Linked DNA regions of Homo sapiens. The protein of the gene in region 1 interacts with the protein of each later gene in a biochemical or structural test. Each region holds a gene or a part of one and is shown on either strand. Other genes may lie near its edges.

Region 1 (3,655 bases):
CACAGCTGCTGCTGCCATTTACCTAACATTTTGACAGGGTGTCTCTGTAAAAACCCAGGAGCACAGAAGCAGCTTTTAGAAAAATCTCTGGGGACTAATCATGTTTCAAAAATATTCTGAAGCACAAAAATGAAATATAACCTATTAAAAAGCCCACAGAAAAATCCATGATAGCTCTGCCAACCTAATATTTTTAAGGTCAAACAATACTGGAAATATTAAAAGTTGTCTTCATTAAAGATCAGGGGATACTGAGTGGGTTTGGGGATGCATGGGGCTGAGCTCAAACGGCAACCATTATAAAGACATTGCTCAACATTAACCTGTAAAAAACAACTGTAGAGCTTCTGATGTAAAATCTACAAATCTATCGAAAATTAAAGAAAATAACTGAAATTATTCATTTATTGTAATGACAATGTCTTTGAAAATAACCATTTCAAGCCACTGCCAGTTTGGAAGAAATGAGTCCAATAGACACAAAAATAAGGAGATTTTTAATTAGATAACTAGTATTCTTAATTCAGCTAAGAATATTTCACAATTCTATGCAAGGATTTCCATAACAGCTATTACAAACGCTAGTGAATACATTTGCATCCTGTATCTTTTATCTCCTTTCATTTATTTGCTAAACATTTTATTACAAATAGGATTGAGGGTGTTTATTATGAAAGCTGATACTGAGTATCTATTGGTAAGATATCTGTATTTTACAAAGAATTCTGATTTTTCTAAAGACTAACATAATATTTACACACATCACAGAACAAAATTGCAAGTTTCCTTTTAAGACACACATTTTTAAATATGTAAAATCCTTTGACAATTGGCTAAAACTGGGAAGAAGAATATTGTTAAAGAGCTTTATTGATTTAGGACATTCTTTGCCTGGGTGCATTTTTTTTTTAGTTTTACCTCCAGCAAAAAATATTAATAATAATTCAAAGCATAACTTTTCAAAATCTGGGCATGTATAAAAAAGGACTTAAAAGTTTTCCTTCATTATGCTATTATTTATATATGTTAATAAAAATATATTTTACCTGCAAAATCTGTGTGGGGGATATTTCACCATTGGTTTCAGTTGCAAAAGATACCATATGCTCTGGAAAAAAATACTGTCAAAAAGACACAGTTAAATTATCACAAAATTCATGCTAGAAAAGATTCAATTATGACCAATATAGTAATCAAAAGCAAAAGTTCTTTAAACTGGTGTGACTAAAATTCACCCAAAAGTGCTTTTGAAAATGCCCGTCCTTAGACTCTACTCATAGGTACCTTAATGAGAATGTCTGGAGTTGGGCACAAAGATTAGCAAATGCCCCCAGATAATGCTGATGTGGATGGATTCAAGTATCTGGAGTTATAAAACACTGCCCTGAAGTTGACAATGTGCTTGCTCCCACATCTTATTCCTGAGTCCCGCAACCAGCCTATCAGGTCAAAAGGACTATCCATGACATTTTACAAGGAACAGGCTCACAGAAGTACAGAGTTTAGGGTATGCCCAAGGTCATAGCCCACAGCACAGTGGAGGTCAGGACTTAAACTGGGCTGGGAGCTAAAAGTCCAGTTCTTTCTACCTACCATTTTTCCAAACTTTTTAATCATAAAATTCACCCAGGGCAGTTGTTTAAAATAGGAATTCCCAGGCCTCATTCCTGGAGTTTCTGATTCAGTAGATCCGGGCAAGTCCTGGATTCTATGTTTTTAATAAGCACTCTCCCCTCAGTAAATTTTATGATTAGACAAGTTTGGGAAAATATATTCTACTATATTTCCTCTAGGACAGGGTTTTTCAACAGTAGTTCTACTAACATTTTGGTCTAATAATTCTGTGTTGAGGGGGGGCACTCCTGCATATTATAGATGTTTAGAGTATTCCTATCCTCTGCTCACTAGCAGCCCTCCCCTCTACTGCCAGTTGTGACAACCAAAAATGTGTCCAGACATTGTCCAATCACCTCCCAGTTAAGAACCACTGCAATAGGTCTACAAAACAAATGTCCAGCCTTGTTTAAATAAAAAATAAATAAAAAACAAGCATTGAACAATATTTCTTTAAATATATCTTTTTAAATTCTTGTCTTTAATAAGGACTCACAACAAAAAGAAACACTTTCTCTTCACAGTTGAATTTATTTAATTTTTATTATGACTAATTTTCTTTGCCAAAGATCATCCCATTATGTTTCTATTAATAGGTTAAGATAAAAGACAACGTGAGAGGTCTTTCAGGGTTTGAAAATATTCTATTATGGTGTGTATCATATATTTTTCATAAAGAATCATTTCAATCCAATTATCATCCAAAACTTAGTGTAAAAATATGCTTCAGCTGCAGAGACAAAAACAATTTAAAATAATGAGCCCAGAGGCTATTCTGACTTTTCTAGATCCCTAGTCTTCATTAGAATGTGACACACATTTATTTTCTTTTAAAGAGAACTACAATGAAAGTAGTATTTACTAGATAATGCACTGGTCTTTATCTCATTTCTACTTAGTTCAAAAATTACTGCACCGAAAACAAAATAATTTGGAATAGCAAGATTCATGTCAATCTTAATTTCTGGCTAAGTTATAATACTCTCAACAATCATTAGTCTGCTTTTACTTTAGAAAGCTATTTAAATTTCCTAAATTCTATAGAAAGTGTTAAGATATAATATTTTGCTTAACACTTGTTCCTAATCTGGGTGAGAACCTATAGAAATTCATTTCCCACATCAAATGTATAATTGTTACCTTTTCACAAAAGGCAAAACTAGGTTTCCTAATACTTTTAAATTAAATAAACCAAATTCATCTCAATTCAGACTTTACCAATACGGCTTTAAAAAGTTTTGCACCTGTGTATCTGAACTTCTGTGTATAATGTTCACTAATCATTGTTAGCATAAGAAATATGGGTATAATTTCAAAGGACCAGAGTCTTCATCTACAATTTACCGAATAGGACTGTATTTTATTTACAGTGACTATCTTCTTCACATAAAATTTAACGGGTTCATTTATTTTCCGTAACTATTAGGAGGGATTTCACTTACCATTGGGTTTTTAAAGAACTCATATTTGGCATAATTTTTTCTAAAGTATAGTTTGTTTTCTTCTTCTATCCCCCAGTTGGATAGCACTTCAATCACCAGTTCGTGGTCTTCTATTGTTCTTTCTGTAAAGAATGTTTCAATGAGTATGTTGACAGATAGACAAATATATATATATATATATATATATATATATATATATATATATATACACACACAGACACATACAAACATATAAAATGTATTACGCATCTTTGTTAAACATAGCAGATTTCAACTTAATTATGAGATAGCCAGATTGATAAAATTTGTCATCAATTTTCAATTACTAATGTTCATTTTTATACCAAAGCAGACTGTTGTCTAGAAAGAAAAAAATGTATAAAATATCATAATGTACTTTTTGTTATCTCAATTTCCTTTTATTACTGTGTAAATAATATAAGTTTGATAACACATCTGCATTAAGTATATGGGAACTATTTTTTTCTCTGACTCATCATGGTGCCAAAACTAAAGTATTTATTTCAAGGTTGGACAATTCACCTCATTAAGAGATGAAGAATTTTGACAGGTTCATGTGCATTTAAGACTGTCCAGAC
Region 2 (3,151 bases), on another chromosome or scaffold:
TCTACTAAAAATACAAAAAGTAGCCGGGCGTGGTGGCGCATGCCTGTAATTCCAGCTACTCGGGAGGCTGTGGCAGGAGAATCGTTTGAACACGGGAGGCGGAGGTTGCGGTTAGCCGAGATCGCGCCATTGCACTCCAGCTTGGGCAACGAGCAAAACTCCATCTCAAAAAAAAAAAAAAAAAAAAAAAAAATTAGCCAGGCATTGTTCATGCCTGTAATCCCAGCTGCTTGGGAGGCTGAGGCAGGAGAATCACTTGAATCCAGAAGGCAGAGGTTGCAGTGAGCCGAAATTGCGCCACTGCACTCCAGCCTGGGCAACAGAGTGAGACTCCATCTCAAAATAAACAGACAAACTGGGGCTCTTACCCCAATGTTGCTCGGGAATTTTCTGGACTATGCTGGGAGTAATTATTTCTCTGATTTTTTTTGGGTAGTAGAATGGATTTCCCAGGTCCCCTAAGAGGAGGCAGGAGATGGGAGGTTGGCCGGGGTGTGCTGCTGGGGGTGGGGTTTCTTTGAGGTGAAGCCAAACCTGCTCACCTGCTGCTGGCCCCATGGCCTCTTCTCCTGTGCCTGCAGGTCCCTTGTATGTCATCGTGGAGTATGCCTCCAAGGGCAACCTGCGGGAGTACCTGCAGGCCCGGAGGCCCCCAGGGCTGGAATACTGCTACAACCCCAGCCACAACCCAGAGGAGCAGCTCTCCTCCAAGGACCTGGTGTCCTGCGCCTACCAGGTGGCCCGAGGCATGGAGTATCTGGCCTCCAAGAAGGTGTGGAACCTGAAGGCTCCCCTGGGTAATGCCAGGGTGGGAACAGAGCCCCCCTAGTCTTCCAGCCTGTGACTTATCATCTTGTGGTGGCGTTGTGGATGCACTGAGCACTGGCCCTGTGTGCCCTGTGTGTTGTCTTAGGCTCTCTGGGAACTGCAGAGTCAGGAGCACCAGTGTAGCCAGGTGGCCTTGGGGTCAGACTGATGCAGGGTCCGATCTGTGCACTGCCACTTTCTGCGTAGCCTCAGGCAGCTACTTAGCATCTTAAAATTCTTCAAATACAAAATAATAATAATATCAGCTGGGTGCAGTGGCCAAGGCGGGAGGATTGCTTGAGCTCAGGAGTGTGAGACCAGGTTGGGCAATATATTGAAACCCCGTCTTTAAAAAAAAAAAAAAAATTAAAAAATTAGCTGGGTGTGGTAGTGCGTGCCGATAGTCCCAGCTACTCGGGAGGCTGAGGTGGGAGGCTAGCTTGAGCCCAAGAGTTTGAGGCTGCACTGAGCCATGATCACACCACTGCACCCCAGCCGGGGCGACAGAGCAAGGCCCTGTCTCAAAAGAAAATAAAGTATAACAATACCTGTTGTAGAATTGTTATGAAGATAAAATGAAACTGTCTGTGAGTGTTGAGTGCAGTGTTTGGTGTGTAAGGGCTGGCCTGGTTTGAGCCCAGCCCCATGTGGACTTGCTGTGCTGGGAGGCAGGACCTAGGAGCATGCATCGCTGCAGACGCAGCAGAGGCATAAGGGGCCAGTCTTTGGGGAAGGAAGGGAGGAGCGCTTGCTGTGATGAGAAGCCTGGAGCTGGCAGAGAATGTTAGAAGAGGGAAAGCAAAGGTTCGGGGGGCAGAGCAGTGTGGCAGAAGTTCTATGAGACAAGTCGGCTAGTTGCATGGGTGGCGGCCGCCCAGAGCCTTCCAGCTCCCTCACCTCCCCGCCTCCCGCTCTCCCTTCCTCCTTCCTCAGTGCATACACCGAGACCTGGCAGCCAGGAATGTCCTGGTGACAGAGGACAATGTGATGAAGATAGCAGACTTTGGCCTCGCACGGGACATTCACCACATCGACTACTATAAAAAGACAACCAACGTGAGTGCCGACAAGGCCGCCCTGTGCTGGTGGTTTCATCTGAGAAGCAAGGAGTGGGGTGGGCTGAGAACCCACCCCCCAGTCCCTTCCCACCTGTGCCCTCATGGCCCTGCCTGGGGCCACTCCAACCTCCCCTGTGCTGCTTTCAGGGCCGACTGCCTGTGAAGTGGATGGCACCCGAGGCATTATTTGACCGGATCTACACCCACCAGAGTGATGTGTGAGTTTGTAATAGCAATTGCCAGGGAGGTGTGGGATAGAGAGCTTCTAGCACTGTAGAGTCCTGCTTTCTCCCTGGACTGAGGAGTCCTCTTTCTGCCCCAGAGAGAAAAACAAAACATTGTCTGTGGCCATTCCCTCTGCTCCAGATGTTGAAAGGCTGATCTGTTCTCCATGCTGTCTCCTGGCACTGCCCTGGGTAGAGGATTTGTGCTGGGGGAGGGGAGGCGGAGAAGCTCTAACACCCTGTGGCTCTCCGCCCATTTGCAGGTGGTCTTTCGGGGTGCTCCTGTGGGAGATCTTCACTCTGGGCGGCTCCCCATACCCCGGTGTGCCTGTGGAGGAACTTTTCAAGCTGCTGAAGGAGGGTCACCGCATGGACAAGCCCAGTAACTGCACCAACGAGCTGTAAGCCCGAGGAGATGTCGGAGGCCCTGAGCCAGGCCTTGGGGCAAGAGTGGGCTTGAGGGGCAGGGGGCTAGACTAGAGAGTATCCATCTCCAGGAGACGTCCCTGACCTTACAGTCCTGCCGCAGGTACATGATGATGCGGGACTGCTGGCATGCAGTGCCCTCACAGAGACCCACCTTCAAGCAGCTGGTGGAAGACCTGGACCGCATCGTGGCCTTGACCTCCAACCAGGTAAGGCTGCCCGTGCCAGAGCCAGAGCTCAGGCCGTCCCCACTGCGTGCACGCACCTCCCTGAGCAGGGAGGAGGGGCCCGGCCCATCGCTGCTTCCTCTCGCCCATCACAGGAGTACCTGGACCTGTCCATGCCCCTGGACCAGTACTCCCCCAGCTTTCCCGACACCCGGAGCTCTACGTGCTCCTCAGGGGAGGATTCCGTCTTCTCTCATGAGCCGCTGCCCGAGGAGCCCTGCCTGCCCCGACACCCAGCCCAGCTTGCCAATGGCGGACTCAAACGCCGCTGACTGCCACCCACACGCCCTCCCCAGACTCCACCGTCAGCTGTAACCCTCACCCACAGCCCCTGCTGGGCCCACCACCTGTCCGTCCCTGTCCCCTTTCCTGCTGGCAGGAGCCGGCTGCCTACCAGGGGCCTTCCTGT

What was found. The genes of interacting proteins can lie anywhere in the genome.
Region 2: the proteins of GRB14 (region 1) and FGFR1 form a complex in vitro, tested with the Homo sapiens proteins (one study listed by BioGRID).

Annotation. Positions count from the first base shown.
Region 1 is NC_000002.12:164,523,958-164,527,612, forward strand, and holds part of GRB14 (growth factor receptor-bound protein 14), read right to left. Parts: intron 3,179-3,655; coding exon 3,057-3,178; intron 1,122-3,056; coding exon 1,047-1,121; intron 1-1,046. UniProt on the Homo sapiens protein: Adapter protein which modulates coupling of cell surface receptor kinases with specific signaling pathways. Binds to, and suppresses signals from, the activated insulin receptor (INSR). Potent inhibitor of insulin-stimulated MAPK3 phosphorylation.
Region 2 is NC_000008.11:38,413,491-38,416,641, reverse strand, and holds part of FGFR1 (fibroblast growth factor receptor 1 isoform 1 precursor), read left to right. Parts: intron 1-581; coding exon 582-772; intron 773-1,740; coding exon 1,741-1,863; intron 1,864-2,012; coding exon 2,013-2,083; intron 2,084-2,352; coding exon 2,353-2,490; intron 2,491-2,618; coding exon 2,619-2,724; intron 2,725-2,837; coding exon 2,838-3,014; 3' UTR 3,015-3,151. UniProt on the Homo sapiens protein: Tyrosine-protein kinase that acts as a cell-surface receptor for fibroblast growth factors and plays an essential role in the regulation of embryonic development, cell proliferation, differentiation and migration.